Homo sapiens: one gene and its partners. The protein of the gene in region 2 interacts with the protein of the main gene of each other region in a pairwise test. Each region holds a gene or a part of one and is shown on either strand. Other genes may lie near its edges. The genes, in order: CRYBB1, AP1B1, POM121 and TBC1D22B.

Region 1 (7,483 bases), 2.7 Mb from region 2:
TTGCGGTGGCTCACACCTATAATTCCAGCACTTGGGGAGGCGGAGGCTAGGAGTTCGAGACCAGCCTGGATAATATGGCAAAACCCGTCTCATAATTCGGTCTCAAAATAAATGAATAAATAAAACAAGTAAATAAATATACATGTGTATGTGTGTATACATTTTTAAAGGAATAATGCATAAAATTGTATACAAAAGCAAGCAAGCAGATTACAGACACAGGTTGAGGATAGGACAGTATTTCCTGGAGTTGGGGAGGAAAATGATGGACTCAAGGGAGACACCTTAGAGTTAGGTAGAAAGTTTTTAACCAAGTCCTGGCTTTTATATGGGTGGTGGGTTTGTAGGTGCATATTGCATTATTAGAAATTAAATAAAACTAATGATTAAATAGGTACATAAATAAAAACCTGCCACGCACTGACCACATGAGAGCGTGTCATGAACTAGGGGTTGCAAAATGGCCTACTTCTGTGACCTGAGGTTGAAACCACACCAAACCAAATCCCAGGGGACTGGACACCTTGCTCCACAGGATGCCTTTCAGCCCAGACCACCTCGAGCAATTTTGAGGGTCTGAGGCCATCCTGCTGCCCCAGTGAGCCTCCAAGGACAGCTGGTTCCCTGCTGCTAAGCCAGCCCACTTCCTTTTCTTCTTTTTTTTTCTTGCTTTCGATAAACTCTAAGCATGTGCGTGTGCAGGTGTAGCCTGATTGCCAGGTGTCCCTTCAGCTGTGAAGCGGTATGGTTTGGTTGTTGTTATTGCACAACTCAACTATAGGTCCCCTTTTTCTTTCTATTCTTTTCTTTTTTTTTTTGATGGAGTCTCCCTCTGTTGCCCAGGCTGGAGTGCAGTGGCATGATCTCAGCTCACTGCAACCTCCGCCTCCTGGGTTCAAGTGATTCTCCTGCCTCAGCCTCCCAAGTAGCTGGGATTACAGGCGCCCACCACTACGCCTGGCTAATTTTTGTATTTTTAGTAGAGACAGGGTTTCACCATGTTGGCCAGGCTGGTCTCGAACTCCTGACCTCAGGTGATCCACCTGCCTCGGCCTCCCAAAGTGCTGGGATTACAGGCATGAGCCACTGCGCCCGGCCCCACTTTCTCCAAGTGTGTCAGAACCCCTGGCTATTTTATGGGCTCCCAGATTGGCTGGGCCACACTTGTGTCCCAGAAGGAGGAGGGAGGAGGAGGCCAAGGTGAGGGAAAAAGAGAATAGGGACAGAGGATAAGAGTCTGGGGAGGTGGAGAAGAAGAAAAGGGAGAGTAAATAGAAAGGAGAGAAAATAAGCCAAGAAAAAGGAGGAGAAAGAGGTGCGGAGGAGTAAGAGGTGAAAGAGGAAGAGGAGGAGGAGAAGAAGGAGGAGGAGGGAAGGAAGGAAAGAAGGCATGGCACCCAGCCACTGCACCCCCAGGTCCTTACCCTGTAGTTCCCAGGAGGCAGTTCCGCCGCCTTGGCGCTGGTAATAGGCACGGTTGTTGGGGCCAGGGTAGTGCCGGGACTAGGGGATGTTCCTGCAGGTGGGGCCCCCTTCCCCTTGGTGTCAGGCCCTGGGTTCACCGCCACTGTGGCCGAGGCCGAGGCCTTTGCAGCCTGAGACATGGTTCCCGCCTGCAAAAGTCTGTAAAGAAACTCTGGCCTTCAGGGATGACACCCCCAAACTGCCTCCTGCCCTCATAGCCCCACATCCTGTGCTTTCAGCCTCCTTGGAGCTCGTTTCCTCTCTATCTCCTTCTGAAACGGTTAAGCCTGGAAGTTTTTCTTTCATCCCTACTTCCCAGCCAAGACCTTCCCGTCTGGGGGCCACTCATCCCACATATATCCTTCCTCCAGGCTTTTGACCATGCGGTTCCCTCCACTAGCTGTTCCACCCTCCATTACCCCGCTAGGTCCTTCCTTAGCCCCCTGCAATTTTCCACACTGCTTATCACACTGATTTGCTTGTGCAACTCCAATTTGCCTCCCTAGACTAATAACAAGAAGTCCCATTTGGGAGTACTTAAGGTGTGCCAGGCACTGTGACATACATTAATTAACCCATCTGACCATGAACCTCACCCGATGGAGTAGCTGCTATCATGATCCCCTCTGAGCAGCAGGGGGCTGGAGAAGGAAGGGGCCCAGCTCAGGCCCAAACAGCTACTAAGTGGTAGGGCTCTGATTTCAACTCAAGGAAATGGAGCCAGCAACTGGGCTTTTAAAGTATTCTGCCATTTGCTTAATCTGATTTATTCACCGTCCATCCCTAACACTTGCTCTGCACCTGGCACATAGGAGATGCCCAATTAACATTTGTTCAGAGAATGAATGAATGCATGCTCCCAGCTCCTTTCCCCGTCTGCTTCCTCTGAGGGGTTGGTGTATGGGTGCAAATACAGGCCGGGGACTGAGGCTTATGGGAGGACCCAAGAGGATGTATTTACTGCATGTGGAGGGTTCTGAAAATGAGGACTGGGGCTGGGTAGGCTTTGGGTGGAGAGGGCTTTGGTCAATTCCAGTGGTTCCTTGTTGCTTTGGGGTCGTGGACTCCTTTGAATGTTTGATGAATACCTCAACTTTGTCCCCGGACAAAAATAATGCTCTCTTTAACTTTGGAGACAATGTTAAGGGATTTGAGGACCCCCTGCTAGCACAGATTAAGACCCTCTGGTCAAGCTGATTCCCGAACACATTCTGTAAGGCGGAGCTAGTTGGGATAAGCACATCCCTCCCCCAGCCTCCTCCAGGAAGGCTGTGCATATTCTGGGGTGCCCCCTGTTCACCAGGGGTGAGGCCAGACATCTGGACCACATCTGTGGCTTTAAACACTCCCCCAGGGCTGGCAGCTGGACTCATGCCTTCCTGGAGATATTCTCATTCTCTCTCTCTCCCTGCTTCACCCTCTCCCTCTGTTCCTCCTCTCTTCCCTGTCTTTGCCTCTCTATCTGTTTCTTACTTCTCTCCCTCTTTCTGCCTATCTGCCTGTCTGTTTCTCTCCCTCTCTGTTCCTCTCTCCCCCACTATCTCTCCCTCATTGTATCTTTGCTTATCTCTCTATCTGTCCTTTTTAATTATATTTACTTCTCTCTCTATTTCTGTCTTTTCTCACTCTCTCCCCTCTCCCTCTCCCTCCCTTTCTTCCTCTCTCCACTTCCGTCTTTATCTCCATGGCCCTGCTCTCTGACTCTCATGGCACTGCTATCTCTGCCTCCCTCTCTCTGTCTCCCTTTTCTCTTCCCCTCCCCTTCAGCTCTCAGCTGGGCTGTGGGTTCCCTCTTACCTGGGGACTTGCTACTTCCTGCTGGAGGACAGGCAGGCGGGCAGGTGCTATGGGTGACTAGAGTCCGACCCCCCATTTTATAGTCTGGCAGACATCAGGCCCTATAGTCTGTGGCACAAAGGGGAAGCTGGCTCAGCAGGCCTGGGCAGGGAGTGGGGGACTGGGGCCCTGACCTCGCCTGGATCACTGCAGACAGCAGCACTTTCCTTTGTGAGACCAGCACACACAGCAGAAACCCTGGCCACAGCAGCTTCACCTTCCAACCCTACCCTGACTCCTTTCTCAACAACCCCAGCCAGGGATGGGCCCCCAAAAGGGTCCCTGCTGGCTGCCAACATGGGGCAGGGAAAAGGGGAGACCCTGGGAGGCAGGAGACCAGAGTTTGAATCCTGACTCAGCCACTGCGCGCTGTGTGGCTTTTGGTAGGTCTCTACCCCTAGGGGGGCCTCTGTGTCTGCAATTATAAGGTGGGCACGTGTCCCTGTTGGATGCCATATAGAAAAGAAGGTGACAATGAGCACAGAAGCGTTTTGTAAAGGCAGATGTGGGTTTGATATGGACAGCCTTTTTTACGGAGTGCTTACTGTGTGCCGAACCCGTGTTATCTCGGTCAGTCCCCGGGACAATCTGCCTTATTTGGTACTTTCATTATGCCCATTTCACAGAAGAGGAAAGTGAAGGCACAGAGAGGTCAGAGCCAGCCCAGGCCAGCCAGCTCTGGGCCTGTGTGCTTTCTTCTCCTGCTGTCCAGCCTTGACCTTGGCCTGAGGCCCCCTGGCCTGACTTCCTCTTTGTAGGTTGGGGTGGGAATGGGAGAGTCGCACTGTGCTCAGCTGGGTTGGATATCGGAGACCTGGGTCTTTTTCTTTTCCCCACATTGGGCCCCATCCTTTCCTGACCTATCGACAGTGATCCCTCTCGCCACCCCAGTTCCCCGCCTCTACCCAGGCCACGTTATCTGACCTGGAGGACAGTGCTGGTGGCCAGAAATATGACTGCCTGTCCCAGAGCCTCCTGCCCTGGCAAGCCCCAGATGCCCACCACATCTTGTTCACCACTGGCCCCAGCACCTAGCTGGGCCTGGCTAGGTAGAGCTTGGCACATCATGGGTTCTCAGTCAATAACTGGTGACTCAATGGTGGTTCCAATGGATCGGAACAGAAGGTAGGGTACGGAGGAGATAGGGAAACCAAGGCAAGGAGAGAGAAGTAAGGAGGCAGATAGAAGTAACAGACAAAGAGAGAGGTGGAGACAGAGACACAGAGAGGCACAGGGGACATGGACAGTGAAGGAGCGAGAGACGGAGAGACAGAGGTCAAGTTGGGGTGATCAAGCCTCAGGACGGAGGAACAGACGCCAGAAATCACAGGGCCCAATCCTCCCATTTCACAAATGGAGAAACCGAGGCCCAGGTGGAACAAATGACTTCAACATAGTCACATGGCGGGAACTCACAGTACAGCTGGGGTCAGAAGGAGCCTGGGGAGCTGCTCAGCTAGGTCACCTGCAGTCGGCTCCCCAGTCCCAGGCAGGGTATATTGCGGGGGCATCTGGATAGGCTCCTGTCTCTTCTTTTTCGGGGTTCTAGGCTCCCCGTGGAGCCCAGCTCTGTCTTGAACTCTCCCTGGCCTGGAGCCAGCTTTGCCTCTGTCCCTCCACCACCCAGCACCCCCTCGCTTCCTAGCCTCTCCTTGGCCTTTCATCCTGGGCCAAGACTTGGTGGGTGGGGTGTGGGCAGGAACTGCAAGATGGGGTAGCCACTGGAACTGGGGCCAAGACGCCTGTGGTGAGGGCCCACCCACCAGTCTAGGCTTCAAAGCCAGGTCATCTGGGGCAGTTCCGTGCCCCCCCTAAAGCCCCAGGAATGGGCTGTCTGCCAGAGGGTGGGGGCAGAGAAGGGGGATGGCCCACCATGTTGGTGGCTCCACTCTGAGCATTTATTATTATTATTGTATCCTTCATTATATCTTTTTCTTTTTTGCCCTGTCTTATGGAGCCAATTTATTTTCTTTTCTTTTTTTCTTTTCTTTTTTTTTTTTTGCATTGTCCTGTACTCCTCAGTATAAGGATGAAGTCTCTGGGATTAACCCCAATTACGGATAAGGAAACTGAAGCAACTCCCTTTCCTTCCTCTCTCTCAGCCACTTTCTCATAAAAATGGAAATGTAAGATAAAATTGGAACTCACATCTTCTTTACTCATGAACCCAGGCTCTTAAAAACTATGCACCCCTGCTTTTTGATCAACAATTAATAATAATCATCTTTCTTATTAGCAATGGTGATGATGAAGATGATGGAAATACCACAATATTTTTTATGTTGCAGGAGCAATTCCAGCTGCTGTTCATGTGCTATTCACATTTATCCTCACAATCCCCCTGTTTCTTAGACTAATCCCAACTTACCTTGTTACACCCATTTTACACACAAGTAAACTGAGGCTCAGAGTGCGTAAGTAACATGCTTAAAAGTTACCCAGCCAGCACCAGTGGGATGCAAACCCAGGCAGTCTGGCTGTAGAGGGTGCATTGTTAACCTTTCATTTTCATGCCAACCCTTCATCAAAGTCATGCATTCCTTTTTTTTTTTTTTTTTTTTTTTTTTGAGACGGGGTCTTGCTCTGTCACCCAGGGTCAAGAGAAATGGCATGATCTTGGCTCACTGAAACCCCTGCCTCCAGGTTCAAGCAATTCTCCTGCCTCAGCCTCCCTAGTAGCTGGGATTACAGGCGCCCGCGCTACTCCCGGCTAATTTTTGTGTTTTTAGTAGAGACGGGGTTTCACCATGTTGGCCAGCCTGGTCTTGAACTCCTGACCTCAGGTGATCCACCCACCTCGGCCTCCCAAAGTGCTGAGATTACAGGCGTGAGCCATTGCGCCCAGCCTAAAGTCATGCGTTTGATAGAGCTGCATTTCACCCTCTTAAAAGGAAACTGGTGTGGCCACTTTACAGGTCATGAGCAGGACTCAGGTGTCCTCCAGGTCACACGGATGGTAAGAAAGAAGCAGGGCTGGATTTCATCTCAGATGATCTGGTTTCCAGTCATGCTGTTTTCCTATGCTTGTTACACCCATTTTACACACAAGTATGTATGTATGAGGGACCTCTTAGGTCCCTCATACGCCAATTCAGAGGGCAGGGTTTCGGGACAAGAGGCACACAGCAAATTGTACAAGTCCTGGATATTTGGCAAGTGTGCCACAGTTTGCAAAGCATGTTTGCAACTAACAGCTCCTCTATGCTGCCCACAGTGCCATCCGGATTCATCTTCAGGCTTTGTGGACCCAGCAGGCCCTGGCCTAGCCCTCTTCTCCTGCCTCACTTCCCTTCAGGTCCCCTGAGCTCCAGGCCAATTGGGCTACCAGCTCTTTCTTGTACATGTGCCCCAAGTTCCCACCTCTGAACTTTTTCTTAGAATGCCTCTCCTTCCATCTCACTCTGTACATATCTTCCTCATCCTTCAGAGTCTAGTTCAAATGCCTCCTCTAACGGCAAGCCTATCTGGATTGCTTCAACTGGAAGAGAAAGGGGAAAGAGAGAAGGAAAGGAATAGGCATTTCCTGAATGTTTACTCTGTACCAGGCATGTTATGTAACCTCACAACAACTCTGTGATATGGTTTGTTTCTGCCCCATTTTATAGGCAGAAATTGAGGGGAAATGACTCGCTGGAGCTCACATAGCTAGGAAGGATGCTTCTGGACTCCTCATCTAGTGCTCATTCTCCTGCTCTAGTCAGGAACCTTGTGGGGCTGATGAGGGCCAATATTCCACCTCTCTCCTTCTTCGTGGCTGATCCCTGGGGGTGGTGATCTGGTCCTTTCCCTCCCTGCTAAAGCCAGAGCTGCTGACGGCTTGCCATTGGCTCTTCAGCCAGGGCTGGCTTTTGTTTCTGTGGCCCAGTTGCTGAGTCGGGGCTTTGTCTCCCAGGGGCCCCTCTTCCCTCCCTGCCTATAAGAGCCCGACCTCGGCTGGTCTCAGATCTGACATGTTCCCTGGGCCTATCTCGGTAAGTCCCAGGTTTGGAGGAGGGGTGGGATCAGAGTTCTGAGTGAGCATTCTGGGAGGCGAGGAACCCAGGTCCCCAGTCCTAGGGATGTCACTGTGTCATCCTGAATGCCATCCTCATCCTAACCAAGGATGAGCCCCAACCATCAAGACCAGCACCTGCTTCCCTCATTTAAAAACAAATTATTCCTGTAGCCCTATTGCCTAAATTTC
Region 2 (7,000 bases):
GCAGGTGGATCATCTGAGGTCACGAGTTCAAGACTAGCCTGGCCAACATAGTGAAATCCTGTCTTTACTAAAAATACAAATAATTAGCTAGGCATGGTGGCAGGTGCCTGTAATCCCAGCTACTTCGGGAGGCTGAGGCAGAAGAATCGCTTGAACCCCGGAGACACAGGTTGCAGTGAGCTGAGATCGCACCATTGCACTCCAGCCTGTGTGACAAGAGCAAAACTCTGTCTCAAAAAAAAAAAAAAAAAAAGATGAACACACAAGCCTAGTGCCAGCTTGCCAAAGGCCAGCTCCAGGCTTATTTTTCCTGGCAGCTCTGCAGTGCCTGGCAAGGGCTGGCACCCACAGGGTTACAGGAGTCTTTGCTGTTCTCTGTCCCTTAGTCCTGCTTTGTATGCCTGTGATATTGGGCTTCTGGTGAGTACGAGTTGGCCTCATGCCTTGGTGCAGCTAATCCAGGTAGTAAGTCAACTGCACATGCTGTACGTTATGCCGCGATTCTACGTTCCCGTGGCCCTGCTGGCCCTGACACCCCACGCATGAAGGCAGGTGCACAGGTGGTTCTCACGCTCTGTGGGGACCATCATATAGGGGTCTGGAGCAGAGGCTTTAGTGTCACTTGCTTTCACTTCCAGACTCTGTCACCAGCTATGTGACCTTAGGCAAAAGCACTAGGATTTCTCAACCACGAAATAGGAGGAAGAGCCACAAAGGGCTGCTGGGAGGAGGACGTGCTGGCGGTGGCTGTGGAATGCTGTGCTGTCCCTACAAGGAAGTGTGCGGCTACTAGTGTCCGAGTTGCTGTCTGCTGTGGGCCTCTCAGTGCCCAGACCCTGCCAGGGGCTCCAGTCACCACCACTGCAGGTGCAGCTGGCATATGGTGGGGAAAGCCAGCTCAGGGGGTGGGGAGGTGCTGGCTCATGGCTCCCTAGTCATGACAGAGCTGTCACTGCCCCTGACCGCCAACTGTATCCTGCTTTGGGGTGGGGACCTCAGAAGAGAGAGGGGAGCTCTGGCAAACACAACTTCTGATCTGAGTGTGATGAGGGGATCAGGCCTGGTTGGTCCCCTCTGGCAGCTTCCTTGACACTGACAACATGGCCCACACTGAGCTCTCCTCAGTGCCAGGCCCGCATGTCCTCACATCCCAAACTCAACTCTCCTTCCCTCAGCCCCGGCTCCTCCCTCCCAGGGAGCTCTCAAGTCTGGCCGCTGTTTCCACCCACAAGAGCCCCCGTGGTCCAGCTGCCCCAGCACTCCTCCTCCCTGCCACGGAATCCCCCGGGGCCGGTGCTTCTGCCCCACCCCTTCCCTGCAGACGCAGCCATCTTTCTCAAGTGCAAATCAGACTGGTTCATCTCTTTGCTTAAAACTTTCCAATGGCTCCGGCTGTGCCAGGATCAAGAAGAAACGCTCAGCCTGGCCCGCCAGCCTTGCCAGCTTCCTCCTTCACTGATCCCTAGTCTAGCCAGGAGTCTTGGGGGTGTGCCCTAGGTGGCATAGTGGGCATCTGTGGGCATCTTCAGGTGGCATAACATGTAGTGGGCTGGAGTCAGGGATGCTGGACATCCTACCATGGGGACAACCACCCCACAACAAGCAACTGTCCTGCATCCTTCCAGTATTTTCTGCATGGTTTCAACATATCCTGAGACTTCCAGGAACACAATTCTCAGGAAAATCGAGGGAAGCCTGTTCTTTATCTTACTCCAAACCTTACTGGGAGTCAGTGACCACTTCAGAAACAAATGGCACCACTGGCCAAACCATTCACGGGGTCCAGGCTACAAACACCCAGACTGTGGTTGCCACAGTCACAGTGACTTTGCCCTGCAGCAAACACCTGGCAACTTCATGTCTTCTGGGGTGAGCGGGCAGGCGTGCCCAGACGTTTATAACATTGATACATACACTTGTATTCTCTCCCTTTTATGTCTCCTCCATGCAGTGAAAGCATCTGAGTATTTTTGGAATGCTATGTGTAGGTAGGTTACACAGCCCACCAATTGCATTTAAGGAGAGGAATGGTGACAATGTAAAATGTCTATGATGACTAAGGGGTGCTGAGTCTGATGGCACTGAGAACTACTGCTCCCACCTGACAGGCCTCTGCTGATTCCCTCACAAAGGCCGTGGTCTCCCTTCCCTCCAGGCCTTACCACAGACTGTTCCCTTGGTCTGGAGCCCCTATCCGCTTTTGTTCAGCTACTGAGGTCCTGCGACTCCTCTGGAAAGCCTTCCTAGGTACCCACCAAGCTTGACTTAGCTCCTCTTCCTCGGTGCCCCTGTGGCCCCCAGCTTCCCTCATCACTGCTGGCCTGAGCCAATTCCACAGCCGAGGCCATTTAAAGGAGCCCACATGCCAGTCTCCATAACTTCTCTCTGCTCCCGCCAAGACAGAAGACAAGTGACTTACTGCTTTGGGGGCCACATATGATCCTGACAGGGTGCCCACGCCACTGGTCAGGTCAAAGAGGTCACTCAGGCCACTGCCGATGGGTGCTCCAAGATTGGCTGGTACTGCTGCTGTTGGAGGTGCCACGAAGTTGGTGCCCCCAATCTGGAAAGGGAGGGAAAGAGTCAGAGGTGGGCGTCAAGAGGCAAAGACATCAGGGTCTGGGAATGAGTAGAGCCACCTGGCTCTTTAGAAGACACTGGGGGCAGGGGGCAGGACAGCCTCCATATCAACTCTAAATTACAGAAACAAGACAGAGAGAGGTGGGTGGAGAAGAGAGGCTGAGCCCTCCCGTGCCCTGCAAGCCTTGAGCCTTAGGAGTAACCTCTGGGAAAGGGCTGGGGACACTCCCAAATTGACGCTCAGCCTATGGATAAAAGGAGGTCCCAAGACACACGGCTGGGTGGAGACATGCTACGCAGATGGGTGCTCTCCCTCCAGGACATCAGAGAAGGGTTGTGGGACTGAGGGCTGGCAATCCCCGCGATGACAAGGCGACGTGTCATGGGGTGGTGAGGACTGGGCAAGAATCCATGGCTATGGGGCCCAGTGGCAGCCGGATGCCAGGTGGTCAAGACAGAGGCTGCCAGGATGCTGGACCAAGGCAGGGGCTCAGCAGGTGGAGGCTGCTGTGACATCACCCGCCCCCGCCCCTTGGGATGCTGGGCCAGCGCTTTCGGGAGGAGCAAGGACGAAGGCTTGGTGACGCAAGGGTTGAACCATACCCCTTCAGGCTCATCCCCCATCTCCAAGCAGAAGCAGGCAGGTGAAGAGAACAGGCAGCCACATGCAGAGAGAAAAAGCCAGGAAGGAAGACAGAGAAACAAGAGAGAGAAGGGAAAGAGGGAGATTAGTCAACGGTAGCTCCATCCGAGAGGAGTGTGGTGTGAGGTCTGGCGAGAGGCCCAGACCCTGTCTCTATGAAAGGCACTACCCCACACCTTTACCCCAACACCTGTCCTGCACCACAGCCCTTCCTGCCTCACCCTAGCAGCACTGATCACCAGTGTCCTGCCCCCGTGCTGCCACCGTGCGGACCTGAGCCGAGCACAGCCAAATGAAGAGGTTTAGGCGCCCCCACACATGGTCCTGCCAGTTGCCTGAGGAAGCCCCAGGGAGATACCCAAGTCAGTCTCACCACTCCCCTCCCTACTGTCTTCCCACTCCCCTCTCTCCCCGGCCTCCCATGCCCTCTCAAATAGGCCTGGATGGGCTGCTATTCCCAGCTGGCGCTGCATAAGGGTAAGTGGACACAAGTCTGATTCCTCAAAGCCAGGAACACCCTAGCCTTACAGGGCAAAGGTGACTGTGATGCCAGGATCAGGGCAAGGGCTAGGATGCGCCTCCCTGCCCAGGGTCTCCTGGGACTCGAAGGTTCAACAAGGGAGTGGAATCCTGTCTGCCTCTCAGGGGCTGTGCGACCTCGGAGGGAAGGCTGCCTGGCCTCTCTAAACCTTGGTTTTCTCATCATAAGTAGGGAGCTACACAATCACCTCCAAGGGTAAATGGTAAGGACTCTATATAATGTACCTGAGGCACTCAGCTGGTGCCTGGCATGGAGGGGCATTCAGTGACTGCTCCTCTGAGGATCATTATCAACATCATCCAGAGGGGGCCCACAACATACCAGGCTGTCAAGGCCACCGCCAAGAAGGTCCACAGCTCCCATCTGCACCGAGGAGGTGGCCAGGGGTGGGCCGCTCACTGGGGGGCCGAGGTCCAGGTTGAGGAGGTCACCCAGCAGGTCGCCCTGGGCGGGGATGACATCTGGCTGCTCCCCAGGAGGTGCTCCAGTAGGGGCTGTCTCAGGGCTCTCTGCGCTCTCACTCCTGCCGGGACACAGAAGTAGGGTGGAGGCATCAGGATGTCTCAGGAAGGTCAAAGAGACCCCAGCCTCCAGGCAGAGCTGTCCCCCAGGACAGGCACTGAGTCTCCTCACTGTCCCCGACAGGGCTGTCCACACGGCCCCACTTCTTCCCCATTCCCATTCCCACAGCAGGTCCATCTTTCAGGTCCTCCGTGAGGATGAGTGAAGGGAGAGGGCCGCCTGCTTCTAGCCCTCAGCCCATGCTAAGAAGAAAACTGGATGCCAGTGCCCTAGGACGGTGCCACCAGGCCACACCAACCACCTGGGAACAACAGAGGAGGAGGCGCAGACAGGGATCTGGAATGAGACAGAACTGGTCTGAGTCCCAGCTCTGCTAGCTGTGAGATCCTGGACCAGTCCCTCAAGCTCTCCTTGTCTCTTGTTCCCACCTGAAGAATGGGGACATTTGCTCTCAGCACTGTCGTTAGGCTGGAATGAGGTCATCTAGCAAATACCTTGTGTACAATAAATAGCTGATAAAAGGTTGTCAGTTTTCCTCAGACTCAGGTCTTGCTGGGGGACAACACGCCAGGCCTGAGTGCCTGTGCTGCTAAACTGGGGAAGCAGAGTGTGAAGGCGCAGGCCGACTGGCCAGTCTCACTCACGAGGCCGTGCGAGGTGGCAGGCTCTTGTGCACGACGCCCCGGCCCCCCTCCACAAAGGCACTGGGAGGCTTATGGTAGACGGAAGCCAGCGTGCCGATGTAGCAGATAAGCTCGTCTAACAGTGTGGGCTCGATGAGGTCCGTCTCTTCAGAGATGAGTGGCTTCTCAGCCAACACCACCTCCTTGGCTGCCACCGGGTCCGTGGACAGCAGGCGCCAGTAGATGTAGCCACGGTCCCGCAGGTCTGGGTTATCTGAGTCCTTGTGGGGGTGAGGAGAAGCCCATGAAACTCAGAGTAGCCAGGTGAGAAGGGAGGAGACCTTCCTGCAGCCATGAGCCAGGTGCGGCACAGGGGTGGCCAATGGGGACAGCAGTCCTGAGTGCTCCCATGAGCCTGCCCCTATACCACCTACAGGGCCATGCCCTGGCCCCGGGCTCATTCCCCATGGTACTCTACTCCAGCCTGGCCATGCCTGTCTCTACTCCCAACCGCCCTCTGTGGCCTGCCCTTCCTGCCCCCAACACACACCCTCAGGTTTCCATGGGCCCTCCTCCTCTGTCTAGTTTGTCTCAACTTCACTACTTGACCTCACTGCACTTTGTGTTGTGTTCTAAGCACCCTGAAGGCAGGGAGCTTGGGTAACTCTGGGGCTGGAAGCCAGTCCCACCCACAAGATACCTGTCTTAGGAGCGGGCCTGGCTTCCAGGTCTAGTTCCTGGGACAAAAGTTCCCCTGCTTGAGTGAGGGCTATGCTGGGCACAGCGGGGAGGTTGGGGCACCCACCTGAGTGGCCAAACTGAGGACCTGCTGCACCAGCTCCTGGGTCTCTGTTGGCTTCTTTAGAAAGAGTTTCACAATGGCTGTCAGCAGCTGCAGCTGGACCTGCAGGGAACAGCGGTGACGAGGAGGAAGTGTGGGCCTCACATGGGGATAGAGGGAGAACAAAAAGGCTTGAAGAGGAATAGGGTGTTCAAAGTCCCTGGAAGCCAAGCATAGCTATTCTAGGTTTGGGGCTGTCACGGCACACAGGCAAAGGGCTGCCACAAGTGTTGGTGCCGCTGAGCAGCCAGACCTCGGCATCACTCACTCAGGAAGGAGCTGAATACTGGACTATTTGGCAAACCCAAGTAGGCCAGGGGCCGCTGCCCAGCCCTAGGGTTTTAGAAACCTGTTGGAGCTCTAGAATTCACAGAACTATGAGAAGCTCACATGTGTGGCTGGAGTGCTTCTTATCAGGACCATCTGTCAACAAGTGGCGACAGTCCCATGGAGGCCCAGGGGACTGGGGCAGCAGGGCCCACAGAGCCTGCCGTCAAGGACCTGTGCTTCTACCAGAGGGTTGGAACTATTCCTGGTGGCCCTCCACCGGCCCCTGCCACATGCCTGGACATACCCAAAGCTGCCCTCATCCTGGCCAACACCTCCTCACCCTTCAGATCTCATGCCAACCCCACCTCCAGACCCCCCATGCTTCTGCAGCCTCTTCCACCCCGTCACAGCGCCACCAGTTGCTGGCTATCCTGTACAGTGAGCCCCCTGTGGGCTGGAGTGATGTCTGTCTTGCTTACTGTCGTGTCACTAATTACTGCCCAATCTAGTGCCTGGTGTATAGCAGGCACTTAAGAAATACTTGCTGACTGAAGAAACATCTATGCGAGAACAAGTCTCTGCACATAATCCTTCCTTAGTCACGGTCTCATTTTTGCTAGTCCTAGGACAAGGGGGCAGCCTGATGCTCCCGGAGTCAGGGGCAGTGGGAGCCCATAGGCTGTGCCAGGGACAGGTCTGCAGCAGGAGGGCAGGAGTGGCAGTGCAGGAAGCCCAGCAGCAGCCGTGCTGACGGCATCTCTGGCACCTGCCCAGCAGGAGGGCACTTGTGCAGGGAAGGCTGACAGAGGCAGGCAGAATGGAGGGCACGTGGTCCTCCAATTCTGGGGTGAACCAGAGTCTGCAATTTGGTTACATGGGGGCCAGCAGCAGATGAGCAGTAGGCTGGCTGTTTCCAAGGCAGGAGGCAGCCCAGCATCTGGCTTCCAGACTCTAGCCCTGCCTGGGCAGCCAATGGGAAG
Region 3 (7,106 bases), on a different chromosome or scaffold from region 2:
GGTTCCAGCAGCGAGCCCTGTGCCACGCGCTCACTTTCCCTTCCCTGCAGCGGCTCGTCTACTCCATGTGCTCCCTCTGCCAGGAGGAGAATGAAGACATGGTACAAGATGCGCTGCAGCAGAACCCGGGCGCCTTCAGGTACAGGGCGTGCGCCAGGGTCGTGGAGGGGGGGATGGGGTGAACTGCTCTCTTACCCAGCATTGGGGCTGTTTCTCTTGCAGGCTAGCTCCCGCCCTGCCTGCCCGGCCCCACCGAGGCCTGAGCACGTTCCCGGGTGCCGAGCACTGCCTCCGGGCTTCCCCCAAGACCACGCTTAGCGGTGGCTTCTTCGTTGCTGTAATTGAACGGGTCGAGATGCCGACGTGAGTGAGTGGGGGCATGCTTGGGAGGCGCAGGATGGTACTGGCACATCTAACATCTACATTTCTCTAGCTCAGCCTCACAGGCCAAAGCATCAGCACCAGAACGCACACCCAGCCCAGCCCCAAAGAGAAAGAAGAGAGCAAAAAGCTGCAGCCGGTGCTTGCACACCGCCTTGCACATAGCAGAGGCTCCGGGCTCACTCCTTCCTGGTGGGAAAGGAAGATGCCTGTCCTCTCCGTGGAAGACCCTGGGCCCTCACCGCAGGCAGCAGTTTGCGTTTTGAAAGGTTATTGGGTCCCTTCCTCGGGCTGTGTTCTTGCTGGTGAGCAAAAGTGTTGCCTGCAGAAATAAAATGCAGAACGTACTCTACGATAGATCACAGTTTTTTATTCTTAATGTCACAAGCAGGAGAAAAATCTCACATTCATACTAAAAATTCCAACTAGACTCAACAGGAATGAAGTCTCTATTTGTAATGGAAAGTCCCAGCCTCCCGCTGCCGTCCAGTGCGTGTACTGTACACATCCACACTCATTCTCACTCAGGGTTCCCGGACCGGCTGTCCTGCCTGCGGAACTGAGGTAAACTAGCTCAGGTACTGACACTAGGAGGGTCTACCTTACATAAGGTACAGGTAGAAGCTTGATTGCTAGGCCCAGGCCCACCCAGACCCTCCAATCCTAACAGGTATTTAGGCTTGAGGTTCACTCCCTCCTCAGCTGCACACGCAGCCAGGTATTAACGAGGATCAGAGCTGTTCTGAGGGGTGGGAAGGAGCAGCCCCGCCACCACTCACTCACCCTCAGTCACATCGGGGAGGGGGCACCAGTTACATTTACATCACATTATTTATAAAATAAGAATTACATTTCATATAACATGGCCAGAAGGAGCTCTAGTCCCCCAGGAAAGCTGCCGGGGACAGCATTTGAGCCTCTTCTTTGCACAGGCATAACTTAACTATACAGCTAATTCCTAGTTAATAGCATTTATACTTAACCACCTCAATGAACCAAGCTTGAAGGAATTTAAAAGGCAATTTAGCTTAAATACAAAAATAAATTTTTGTTAAAAAACGTTTAAATATTTTTTTCTTTTAATTTAGACACACGCATTCATACTTCTCCCAAAGAGGTTGGGCGTGGCAGCAAGGCGCTTGGGCCTGGGGTATGTGGTTTCAGAAGGACGGAAGGAAAGGATGGGCTGCAGAGGGCCCTGTTTGGGAAAAATAGGATTTTAAAAATATGGTTCATTAATTTAGGTTTTCTAACATCTACTTTGGGTGATGTAGCCTCCAGTGAGGTCAGTTAAGTGGGACAGAAACGGCAGAGGGAAGAGGTCTTTGCTTCCCCTGGGCCCATTCTCCCTGGCTGCCAGCCCTTGAAGTCAGAACACCATGGGAAAATTCAGGAGTCGGCACTTGTAGCCGTCAAGTGGTGCTACTTTCCACATTCAATTAGCGAGGCCCCAGAAAACTTGAAACAGGAAGTCCGGCACTACCAACATGCCGCCACTCATACAACTCAACTCTTCCTCCAAACTCGATTCAAAGAGCAATACACAGAGCATCAGACAAAGGAACACAGGACAAGGCTTGAAACATACAATCCTGGAGAGGCAGACGAGGGCCCAATGGGGCCAAAGGGTAGCTGGGCGAGGAGGCAGCTGAAGCAGCGGTGGGCATCCTGCCTGCTCCAAGAGCTTCTCCCTTCACCCCTGGCTCTGCCAGGCTAACAGTCTTGAGCCACCAAGCTCTGAGGGGCCAAACTGGCAGAGGGTTGGAGATGAAACATTGATTCAGGCTTGGCAGGAAGAAAACGGCAGGAGCAGCACCCACTGGGGTCTCCAAGGCAAAGCTAGATTCAAGGGCATTTAAAAACGAAGGAATCCTGCAAGGAACTGGTGAGGGACACAGCAGCAAGAAATGGGGAAACAGAGTCCCCAGAAGGGACCAGAGGAAGAGAACCACTTCTCACAGCTAAGCCAAGCAAGATAAAGCTTTACGGATAGCCCATTTCCCAAATCCCATCAGGTGCACACCACCGATCCAGGCGGGCTGGACCCTGCCCCCTCCAGCGACGACGGTCTCGGGGAAAGGTGGAAGGGGCGCCTGCCTAAGGGTGTGCTAAGCGGGAGTCAGGGCAGCGGACACTATGTACAGGTGTTTCCTTAGTTCTCCAGCCTCCCCAGTAGAACTGTTCAAGTAGAGGTCCCGGGCTTTGGCCCTCCGCATCCTGCTTCCCCTTCCCTGAGGCTTGTGCTTCCTCCAGAAGGGAAAGGGCCCCAGGGCTGCCACTGCCCCCTGGCGGCTGAAGCCAGAGATCCGGGGTAGGTTTGCTTTACGCAACTGGAAGGGTCCAAGGCTCTTCCTAGCAGGTGCCAAGGTCCAGATTTAGGGAAGGGGTGGGGGGAACAGGGACAGGGGACAAAGGCTACTTTTTGCGGGTGTGCTGCCTTCGGGCCTGCAGTCGCTGTCGAGCCCCTGGGGTCTTGGATCCCGCACCAATGGAAAATGAAAGGGCCGCCGATCCTGGAAAGATTCAACAAGACCTCATCAGGGCAGCTGCTACCTGAGACTCTGACTCTGGGTGCCCAAATCTCTGGAAGGCCAGGCCAGTAATAAAACACAGGGTGCCTCAATAGGGCTTTCCCCGCTGCATCAGAAACACTGTACGGGAGAAGCCTCCTGAAATGCAAACTCCCAGAGAGTCTCAGAGCGAGGCCCAAGAATCCATTTTTACCTGGCTTCCCATGGGAGGCAAACTTCCACCCCGGACAGCTCCTCTCTGATCTCTGCCATCCAACTCCCATCCCTGGGTTGTGCTGGACTCCTAACCCGAAATGTCTTTCCTGTGCTGAACCTGATCTTCACCGGGCCTCAGAGGACCAGGAACCTGCCACCCCGCCCAACCCCTCCTCAGACAGATGAGCAGGGCCACAGGGTGGCTTGCTGCTTACCGAAAGGTGCAACACCAACAAAGCCTTGGGCGGGTGCTGAGGATGCCCCAAAGGAGAGGCTGCTGCCTGATGTGCCCACTCCAGGCGCAGGGGTGTTCAGACCAAAGGTGGGGGTGGCGGTGCCTGGAATGAAGAGAACAGAGAGCTGGCCAGTGAGCAGAGGGCAGAGGCAAGCGAGGAGCCGGGCAGGAGCCTGTGCTCCGCAGGGCACTTCCCACGGGACCCTCAGCCCCACTTCTGCTTCTGGGGCACTCCTCCATCAGCAGCTGAGCCAGACAACCGAGTCTTCATGCCTGGTGCCCCAGCTCAGCCTGCTTCTCCCACCCGCTAATGGCCACGCCAGGGCAGAGAAAAAGCCCCCCTGCCCCGCAGCCACCTCGTGGGCCTCCTGACCATCGCTGCAGAGGGGAGTACTCTGGGGCCCCCGCCTCCTAGCGTACCTGGGTTGGCTACCTCCTCTGTTCAGGCCTTTTCCCCCAGCCACCGTCCCCTCCCCTCTGAAGCCTGGTTTGTCCGTCCCGCGTCTTTTGTGATGCCCCGTGGTCCCCTCCCTTCCCCGGCCTTGCCCTGACTGGCTCTGGCTGCCTGCCCGAGGCCCTCTCTGGCAGCCCCTCTGCAGGGATGGCTGCTCTCAGGGCTTGGCCTCCGGCCCGGACAAGAGGAAGCTCCCTGTGCTCCCACGCTGCTTCCACACTGTTTCTCTTCCTTCCCTAAATACCGTAACTCAAGTTCAGATCACTTTAATCTGCCATGTCCTCATGTCACCTGTCAACTGCCAGGTCACTCCCTGATTCACAGAGGACCCTTGGCTCACTGGCTTCCTTCCCATCACCACTCACGGTGACTTCGCCCTGTGAGGCTGACTGATGGTCCTCTCAGCCCCTCAACCCTGCCACCCCCATGACCTCCTCTCCCCGACCCCTGCCACCACTCCTGCAGCCACACTGTCACCACAACTGCTCCGGCTCCCGAATCTCCTGTAGGCACCACCCCTCCTGCAGCTGACTTCACCCGCTCTCCACTCCTGCACCCCCTGAGCTGCATCGGGGCACTGACCCGCTGCCCCTCCTGCTGTGCTTGCTGGGGTCTCCATGGCCGGGTGGCACCAGCTGTCCGCTGACCTTAGGTCTACACCCACAGTGTCGCTGGGAAACACATGCCATGCTAACTGGCCTCACTTTAACTTCACAATCACAATTTTCCAGCCCACAAACTGCCTGGAAACTGATCACACTTTTTAATATGATGTTCCTTTCCCCCACTGTCCAAAATGACTATTTCAAAAGACCCCTTTTTTTATACACTTTATCCTGACCCTCTCTCTCCCAGATTTTCTCTACTTCACGAAGCAAACAGAAGCCATGGGATCTACATTCATCTTCCACATGGGAGGAACCATCACTGCATCCTTCTGCCTGATTCTGCAATGGTTTTCCTGAACACTTAAGACCCAAACACCCAACCCTGGCCACAAACAATCCTTGCCTCTTGGCCTCCTTCCACACCACTGCTTTAGCTCCTGCCCTCCTGCCATGCTTGTCTTTGTTCTGCTCTTCAACATACCAAACATGTTTCTGCCTCTGGGCCTTTGCATGCGCCATCCTGGGCCTGAAAGGCATGTCCACTTGTGCTGTGCCCACCCCCATATTCAGCTTACGGTTTGTTTTTTGAGACAGAGTCTTGCTCTGTCACCCAGGCCGGAGTACAGTGGCATGATCTTGGCTCACTGCAACCTCCAACTCCTGGGTTCAAACCATTCTTGTGCCTCAGCCTCCTGAGTAGCTGGGATTACAGGTGGGTACCACCACGCCCGGCTAATTTTTTGGTATTTTTAGTAGAGACAGGGTTTCGCCAAGTTGTCCAGGCTAGTCTTGAACTCCTGGCCTCAAGTGATGCACCCTCCTTGGCCTCCCAAAATATTGGGATTACAAGCGTGAGCCACTGCGCCCAACCTTCAGCTTACAATTGTTAACTACTCAGAAGGCCTTTGACCAGTTAAATCCACAATGGCTCCTCCAGTCATTACTACGTTAGCAAAACATGTATCGTTCCCTGGCATCTCACTGAGTTCTATATTCAGTGCCTGTCTCTTCACTGCCACAGCATAAGCTCCCCGAGACCACAGGCTTCGCAGGCACAGCTTTTCAGTGTCCGGCCCGGTAGCCCAAGTCCACGCCCCTCCTTACCTCCAAACACAGGTTTGCTCTCAGTTGTGCTGCTCACGTTGAAGGCAAACGGTGTGCTCTGGCCGGTGGTGCCCAGGGCGTTCTGACCTAAGCCCCCTGCGAAGGGGGTGGAGGTGGCTGTGCTCCCACTCTGTCCTGCTCCAAAGCTGAAAGCTCCGGTGGTGGTGCTGGAGCCTGGGGTGGCCACATTGATCCCAAAGCTCCCACTGCCAGCGGGGGCTGCCGAACCCCCAAACGTGAAGGGTGATGGTGTTGTGCTGCCAAACACCGAGCTGCTGCTCCCGCTGCTGGCGGTCTGGGTGGTGGCTCCAAAGCCGGAGCTGGTGGCTGCACCGAAGAAGACAGCAGTGGAGCCGCCAAAGGCGGGCTGTGAGCTGGCGGGAGCGCCGAAGGCCGAAGCCGTGGCTTTCAACCCAAACGCCGAGTGCGTGGCACCGCCAAAGATAGGATGGATGGGCGTAGGCACGTACGCAGGCACGACCTTGATCATGGACGGAGGTGCAGGTGTGGGTGCAGCAGCCGGGGCTGCAGAGTTTCCAAAAGTGAAAGAGCTGCCAAAGCTGGGGGCAAGGGCCGGCTTGGCGGCCCCCGGTGGCTGCCCCTCAGCGGCCCCAAATGCGGGCTGGGGGTTGGCTCCCGGATATGATGGGAGCGGGGACTTGGCGCTTGAGCCAAAGGGAATGTTGAACGTGGGGGTGCTCGTGTTACTGAACGTCAGAGTGGGCTGGCTGCTGGTGGCCGGGGCGGAGGTGGCGAGGGTGCTGCCAAAACCACTAAAGTCGGCAGCGCTGCTGCTGGTGGCCGTTGGCACGGCAGTGTGCAGGGACTGGCTGAAGGTGGTGACTGTGGTGGTTGTGGGCAAGGCAGGAGGTTTGCCAAACTGGAATATGGAGCCCATGGCCGGGGTGAAGCTGGCAGCAGAGGCCTGGGGCGCCCCGAAGAGGAAAGGCTGTGAGGCGGCAGTGGCGGTGCTGGTCGTGGTACTCACACTGCTGCTGCTCACACTGTTTATGCCAAAGCCAAACGCAGGCTTCGAAGCAGAGTCTGTGGATGGACTGGCAGAGGTGATGGGAGCCACAGCAGAGGTGGCGCTGGCCAGGCCAGTGAAGAGCGGGGCAGTTGTGGTGGGAGCAGTGGCGGGAGTAGTTGTCTGCTTGAAGAAGGGAGCAGGCAAGGGCACAGATGCAGGTGGCCCCATGCTGCTAAAGACAGGCTGGAAGGTCGGGGCTGTGGTGCTGGTGGTCGTGGGGAGGGAGGAGCTGGAGGGCGCTGTGGCTGTGACTGAAGGGCCAGGCGGTGTGGGGCCTTCCTTCTCACTCTTGGGTGGAGCCGTGAAAATGGGCTTGAACATGGGAGGTGCTGAAGATGCAGCAGGGGCGGCAGGGCTGGAAGGTGAGGTGTTCTGTGTTCCAAACAGGAAGCTTTGCTTGGGGGCGGGGGACGGGGCAGATGTGGCTTGGGGTTTGGTAGCCGTCTCTGCCTGAAGGGTTGGAGGTGCCTTGGTGTCAGTGGCTGGTACCATGGATGGAGCAGGGATCAGCCCCAGCAAAGTGGTCGGGGGTTTGGAGTCAAAGGAGGGGCTGGGGAGCAGCCCTGGC
Region 4 (7,401 bases), on a different chromosome or scaffold from region 2:
GTTTCCTCCCCAAGGGTGTGGCTGCCTGTGTGCACTGTCTGAGGTGCCCAGCTGAAGGGCAGCGAGGGGCCAGAACCCAGCCACACCCCATTCACTGCCCAGAGAAAGGGCTGCATTTATATCAAACACACCAAGGCACCTTAGGTGGTAACAGAGACGCCAGATGCTGCAGCAACTTTTGAGAACTTTTTTGGTGACTCTAAAGGTGCTAACAGAGACTCCAGATGCTGCAGCAACTTTTGAGAACTTTTTTGGTGACTCTAAAGGAAAATCAAATGTTTTCTTTCTACCCTAACTTGGAACTTTTCTTGGTGCCAAATAGTGAGTTTAGTTTAGTCTAAGGCAGTGTTTTCCTTCCCATTCCACACCACAGAGCACATAAGGAATGATGACACTGCAGATGACACCACAAAGCACAAGGCTGCAATAAATGGAGGTGGTTGCTCTCCACAAGCCCCAGAACCCCCAGCTGCTCCAAGGACTAAAAGGATCAATATCCCCGCACATCCTGTACCCGGTTCTTGGCCCACCAGTGTGCCCTGCACAATGGTGAGAAGCTCTGGCCTAAGGCAATCCTGCCTTTGGTGGCTGCGGTTCCTTTGTGCTCCTACATTTCCCACCAAAATCAACCAGTTCTTAATTCTGCCAAGATATGACTGAAATAACAAACAAAGACTCAAACTGAACTCTGTCTTGTTCTTGACATTTCTACACTAGATAGTGGGTAGGGGGAATAAGCAGTAGAGGACTCACGTATATTGAGTGCTTCATATGTATAAGGCATATAGGTCACTTTTACATATGATCTCTCATTTGATCCTTAGAACATATGGTAGGAATGTATAACTATTTTACAGACAAGAAACTGCAGCTCAGGGAGGTTAAATAACTTGCAAGTGAGAAGTGAAAAACCACCTTAGGTAAGCCTGACTCTAAAACTCTTGTATTACCACAAGCAAAACTCAGTTTTTAATTCTAGCTGTGCTTACATGACTGTTTCATATTCTTTACACGGCTGGGCCTTAAAAAGTAGTAGTCACAACAAAAATTAAACAGTGACTATCAACCAACCAGCACTACTAGAAGGTTTACAAAAACAACTTCCACGAGGCAGTTGGCTGGGATGCCTAGTGTAACGAGGGGACTAGAAAATGCAGACACACACTGCAAAGCTGAGACAGAGGTAAATTTCATATTACCTATTTACAGACAGATGCAGTGACTATCAACCAACCAGCACTACTAGAAGGTTTACAAAAACAACTTCCATGAGGCAGTTGGCTGGGACGCCTAGTGTAACAAGGGGACTAGAAAATGCAGACACACACTGCAAAGCTGAGACAGAGGTAAATCTCATATTACCTATTTACAGACAGATGCCGGCAGGAGAAAACCTCCTCAGGGAGAATGCTCTGGGCTGGGCGGGGGAGGTCCTGGCTGCACAGGGCAGCTCATCATGGATCACGGTAGGGGCCTTCCTCACACTGGAAACCTCTGGAGACCCTCCATCACAGTGTGTAGACACCTTCCACGGCCTGCAGCTGTGGCCACCTGGTCCAGTAACACTGAATGCCTATCTGTGCATGGCACTGAAGGTTCATGCTAGAGCCCAAATCAGTGATGGAAAATAACTGTGCAATGATTGCAAAGACCTTACAGCCACGAAAAAGTTCCCTCAGAACATGAGCCAGGGTACACTCCAGGGCTCTGATGTTCTTCTACTTCCTTTTCATCCTGTACCAGCTCACTGCTTTAACTCTCACTGCGATGACAAAGCTTCCCTCTCCAGCTCCCAACATACTTTATAAAACCCATTAGGGCAACATTAAACATAACCATGAATATTTAAAGGAATACACTGAGAGTCCCCAAAAGCTAATAAAACCACCAACACATCAACCATTACTGTGGCCAGTTTCCCGAAAAGAAACAGAGAGGCCTCTACTTCTACCCCACCCAACCTGATGGGACCTGCCTGATGGTCAGGAAGCTGGGACCTGGGGCCTTTAGGCACATTTGCTCCCTCCCTCAGGAACAGGAAAAGACAACCTTATGCTAGTGGCTGTTCCCTAGGGCTGAGAAAGTCAAACCACAGTGCCAAACAATTGTGAAATTCAGCCACTAACAGCTTTAAATACATCAGTTACTATTTCTAAACCTGACCAGGCCTAAAGCAATGTGAAGCAATCAAACCAGAGAAGTTGTGGACTCCACCACAGGGAAAGGAAGAAGAGAAGAGGAGAATGGCAAACAACACCTGGGTGTCAGAGAGTGAAGGCCCAGGTCACCAGACTGGGCAGCCACCACTGTGGGAGGGGCAAGTATAGCTTGTGACCACTCAGGCTTAATGATGTCACATCTCAGGCTTGAGTTTATTTACCGCCCAGTTGAATATCTACCTGAGTGAGGCCCCAAAGAAAAATCGCTTTTATTTAAAATGCACGCTGCTGAGAAGGCTGAGGCTATGAAGGGAGCAGGAAGGACTTACTAGAGTTTCTGGACAGCTGGGCATCACTGCTGGACTTTATGACCTTGTAGTTGGCAGGGACGTCCGATGTCGTTGACTGGGACCGTTCTGGTTTTACTCTCAGCTTGCTGTGGTTTTCTAGAACTTGGGCTGCAGTTGCCAAAGCAACTTTTGAGTTCAGAGTTTGGAAAGAAGGTGAGGAAAAGTCCTCTTCCTCATCATCGCCAATGTCCCAAGCATCACTGGTATTCCGTGCAAACTCATGAAAACTGGAGGCCTTCTTATTCTTCAGAGGAACTGTGTTGACTTTTGATCGTTCTTTAATGAAACTTCAAGAAAGGAGACACGATTACCAAGGAATGGCCTGACACATCTGACCACCTACATTTGCTTATTATTGTAATATTAATAAATTACAAACTACCACATACATAATCATTAGCTTCTTCAAACAAAAATTGCCCACATCCATTCTTCATCTAGATACATCCAGACCAGCCTGAGATCGCAGAGACAGATGTAGCAGAGACAGCAATGGTCACCAAATATCCCATGTGCTCTTGTATACTTCCTGGCCCCCATACACTTAGGTGAGGCCATATGACCAATACCGGCCAATGGACTGAGGAGAAATGAGGCGATTACTTCCAGGCAAAGTAGAGAATAGGTGTCAGTTCTGTATAACCTCTCTCTTTTTTTTTTTTGAGACAGAGTTTCTGTCACCTAGGCTGGAGTGCAGTGGTATGATCATGGCTCTCTGCAGCCTTGACCTCCTGGGCTCAAGTGATCCTCCCACCACAGCCTCTTGAGTAGCTGGGACTACAGGTGTACACCACGATGCCTGGCTAATTTTATTATTATTTTTTGTAGACACAAGGTTTCACTATGTTGCCCAGGCTGGTCTTGAACTCCTGGGTTCAAGTGATCCTCCCACCTCGGCCTCCCAAATCGTTGGGGTTACAGGTGTGAGCCACCATGCCTGATCCATAGCTTTTCTTCTATCATGATGCACTGGCAAGATGGTAGAACCTCCTTCAGCCTAGGTAACTGAGTGGCTATGTGGAGCAGCAGTAACTATGTCGAGGAGCCTGCCCTCTGCCCTTACCCCACCCCCATTTTAGACATGTAGCATGAGCAGGAAATAAACCTTTACTATGTTAATCCACAGAGATTTGACAGTTGATCTGCTATCACTTAGAGCAGCACATAAACTACTGGCAGAAAACAAGATAATTTTAGGTAGTCCACATATGTAGCATTAAACATTAAGTCCCAAAATAAAAAAGTTGTTCCATTTTTTATTCTGTTAAAAGTTCTTCTGCTGGCCTTGAGAAGAAAGTTGAAGTTTGGTGCTACTCTGTCTTTAAGACCATTTTCTAACTAGGTGCCAAAGTGACGGCAGCCTCAGAATCAATATATTTGCTAGCAACAAGATCTGCCTCTGGATTTAATAAGATTGTTTGGTTTTTCACTGAGTATTTATATGGTTCTTTTCTTTTAAGAGTCAGGGCCTTGCTCTGTCACCCAGGGTGGAGTGATGGAGTGCAGTAGAGAAATCTTGGCTTACTGCAGTCTTGAACTCCTAGGCTCAAGCAATCCTTCCACCTCAGCTTCCTGAGTAGCTGGGACTATAGGCGCACACCACCATGTCTAGCTTTTTTTTTTTTGAGAGATAAGGGTCTCATTATGTTGCTCTCGCTAGTCTCAAACTCCTGGCCTCAAGTGATCCTCTCACCTGAGCCTCCCAAATTGCTGGGATTACAGGCATGAGCCACCACGCCCAGAAGTTCTTCTTATTTATAACAAATGTTGTTTTCTATTTATAGAAATGATAATATTTGTTCTTAAAACAAGACTATTTGAGTGGCCAGGCACAGTGGCTCACGCCCGTAATCCCAGCACTTTGGGAGGTGGAGGCAGATGGATCACTTGAGGTCAGGAGTTTGAGATCAGCCTGGCCAACATGGTGAAACCCCATCTCTACTAAAAAAATACAAAAATTAGCCAGGCATGGTGGCGCATGCCTATAATCCCAGCTACTCGGGAGGCTGAGGGAGGAGAATTGCTTAAACCTGGGAGGTGGAAGTTGCAGTGAGCCAAGATCACACCACTGACTCCAGCCTGGATGACAGTGTGAGTGACACTCCGTCTCAAAAAAAAAAAAAAAAAGAACTATAGGAGACAAGTACCCAAATCAAAGAAAATAAAACTGAGGCTGCACGTTCTGGACTCATCCACCATGGCTGCTTCTCCTTTGTAAAAGGGGACCTGATCTACCACCTGCAGTACCACCTCAGGGGATTCGCTGTCGAGAACAAACATGCAGCTGTGTAAGAAAGATCTGTCATCTAATATAACACCCAGGAGTATGTGGTTATTACTGTTTTTCCTCCTTAGAGGCCACGTGTACATTAAGATTGCATAAATACTGGATGTTCTGAGAATTCTTTAATCAATCATCAAATCAAGAAGTTGAATTTTAACTCAGGTCAAAGAGCTGACTTGAAGCTGGTGGCCTAACACAGGGTGACACACACGCACACCAGGACCGGATGAACACACTACAGGGAGAGACGGGCCAGGCTGCCTGTCAGGTTCTAACAGGTGCTGACTTCTGAGAAAAATGAAGGCCGTTAACCAGCTGAGGGGTGGGTACCAGGGTGTGTGTTGTATTTTTCTTCATACGCTTTTTATGCATTTGAAGGTTTTCGTTTTATATATATATATATTTTTGTTTGTTTTGAAAAGGAGCCTTGCTCTGTCACCCAGGCTGGAGTGCAGTGGTGCGATCTAGGCTCACTGCAACCTCCACCTCCTCGGTTCAGGCGATTCTCTTGCCTCAGCCTCCTGAGTAGCTGGGACTACAGGCACGCACCACCATGCCCAGCTAATCAGGCTGGTCTCAAATTCTTGACCTCAGGTGATCTGCCCTCCTCGGCCTCCCAAAGTGCTGGGATTACAAGTATGAGCCACCATGCCTGACCAGTTTTCATTATATTTTTGAAGCAGATAATGATTCAATATATATTTGAAGTAGATTAAGATTGGAATTTACTCAAATGAAGACTTGCCAATAGAAACTGGGAGGACACTTTCCAACACAATGAAGAAGAAAGAAGGGAGAAAAGGCTGTCATTCCCCATGACATAAAGACATGAGATTCAAGGCAGACCATTTTGAGGCTGCTAGAAATGATTTTAAGGATACCTAGCCCACAAAACCCCAAATTCAACCAACCAATTTAAAAGTCAGCTCTGTCCTGAGGAAAGAGGCTTTCGTGGAGGAAGGGGTTGGTTTCACCTAGAAAAGGGGAAGAGTCTGAGGACAAAACAAGGTTGGTGAGAACCACCCACAAGAATGAAAGAGAAGGCTGGGCATGGTAGCTCATGCCTGTAATCCCAGAACTTTGGGAGGCTGAGACAGGCAGATCACCTGAGGTCAGGAGTTCAAGACCAGCCTGACCAACATAGTGAAACCTCATCTCTACTAAAAATACAAAAATTAGCCAGGTGTGGTGGTGCACACCTGTAATCCCAGCTACTCAGGAGGCTGAGGCAGGAGAATCACTTGAACCCGGAAGGCAGAGGTTACAGTGAGCCATAATTGTGCCACTGCACTCCAGCCTGGGTGATAGAGCAAGACTCCATCTCCAAAAAAAAAAAAAAAGAAAAAAAGAAAAGAATGAAACAGCAAAGCAAGAAGTGAAAGGTACTTTGGGTTACCACTGAGAGAAGGCAGAGAATCCACAGACCAGGAGCAATAAACAATGATGGGTAAATTTAAGGCTTTGAAGCTTTTCCATGTTTACTAGTTATGCTCTCTCCAGAGGAGATACATAAATTCACAAATAAATACATATAAATATTGGCTACTCACTAGCCATATTCATACATATTCATAATATTCATAAATATTGAATACTCACCAGACCCTATGCTAAATTTTAATATATACCCATTTTCTTATCTAATGCCCATTAATAATCCTATGAGGTGGGTATTTTTGTTAGTCCCATTTACAGATGAGGGAACTGAAGCCTACTGAGATCATGAGCAGGCAGTGAGGTCTGGGCTCAAATCCAGGTCTACCTGACTCCTGGGCCAGCATGTGCTACTAACTACTTACTTTACCTTGAAAAAAGCAGCTAAAAAGAAGAAGGTCAGGGCCTAGAAGGATCTGCAGCCTAGGAAGAGAAGTCGCCAAGTAAACCAAGCCACATACCACCACAGCTATAATTCTCCCCAACTATACACAGCCAAAAGCCCAACTCTCACACCCTGTAGGAAAAAAAAAAATCTCAACTTGTAGGAAAAGACTTAGGTCTGACACACATAGCCTATTCTGAGTAGACAGGAAAGAAGCCACATCTAGGCATGGGCTCCTTGTAAGAGAAATGTCACCCCTTTCTGTTGACCCCAGTAGTTGCAGCAAAAAGTTAATCCAGGTAACTCCAGCTGGGGATGCCTTCGGTTTATATACTCCATTTAAACACAGTCCCAGGTAGTTTACACTTAACTCAATGTAAAAGAATGCCACAGTGTGGCTTGAAGTCTAACCAAGATTATTTATTATTATTATTATTAAGATGGATTCTCGCTCTGTCTTCCAGGCTGAAGTGCAGTGGTGCAATCTTGGCTCACTGCAATCTCCGCCTCCGGGTTCAAGCGATTCTCTTGCCTCAGCATCTTGAGTAGCTGGGATTACAGGCGCATGCCACTACGCCCAGCTAATTTTTGTATTTTTAGTAGAGACAGGGTTTCACCAATGTTGGCCAAGATGGTCTTGAACTCCTAACCTCAGGTGATCTGCCCACCTTGGCCTCTCAAAGCGTTGGGATTACAGGCGTGAGCCACCATGCCCCACCCTAACCAAGATTATTTAAACACAACTCTATCAAAGTCACAACCAAACTGGCCTCTGACGAACACCTTCAC

Evidence for each region.
Region 1: the proteins of AP1B1 (region 2) and CRYBB1 interact in binary tests that used the Homo sapiens proteins (3 or more experiments, as listed by UniProt).
Region 3: the proteins of AP1B1 (region 2) and POM121 interact in binary tests that used the Homo sapiens proteins (3 or more experiments, as listed by UniProt).
Region 4: the proteins of AP1B1 (region 2) and TBC1D22B interact in binary tests that used the Homo sapiens proteins (3 or more experiments, as listed by UniProt).

The regions. Positions count from the first base shown.
Region 1 is NC_000022.11:26,614,716-26,622,198, forward strand, and holds the start of CRYBB1 (beta-crystallin B1), read right to left. Parts: upstream 3,313-7,483; 5' UTR 3,262-3,312; intron 1,624-3,261; 5' UTR 1,605-1,623; coding exon 1,425-1,604; intron 1-1,424. UniProt on the Homo sapiens protein: Crystallins are the dominant structural components of the vertebrate eye lens.
Region 2 is NC_000022.11:29,336,571-29,343,570, forward strand, and holds part of AP1B1 (AP-1 complex subunit beta-1), read right to left. Parts: intron 5,814-7,000; coding exon 5,715-5,813; intron 5,191-5,714; coding exon 4,931-5,190; intron 4,288-4,930; coding exon 4,086-4,287; intron 3,205-4,085; coding exon 3,184-3,204; intron 2,564-3,183; coding exon 2,420-2,563; intron 1-2,419. UniProt on the Homo sapiens protein: Subunit of clathrin-associated adaptor protein complex 1 that plays a role in protein sorting in the late-Golgi/trans-Golgi network (TGN) and/or endosomes.
Region 3 is NC_000007.14:72,941,925-72,949,030, reverse strand, and holds the end of POM121 (nuclear envelope pore membrane protein POM 121), read right to left. Parts: coding exon 5,509-7,106; intron 3,446-5,508; coding exon 3,323-3,445; intron 2,895-3,322; coding exon 2,797-2,894; 3' UTR 732-2,796; downstream 1-731. UniProt on the Homo sapiens protein: Essential component of the nuclear pore complex (NPC). The repeat-containing domain may be involved in anchoring components of the pore complex to the pore membrane. When overexpressed in cells induces the formation of cytoplasmic annulate lamellae (AL).
Region 4 is NC_000006.12:37,274,699-37,282,099, reverse strand, and holds part of TBC1D22B (TBC1 domain family member 22B), read right to left. Parts: intron 2,797-7,401; coding exon 2,489-2,796; intron 1-2,488. UniProt on the Homo sapiens protein: May act as a GTPase-activating protein for Rab family protein(s).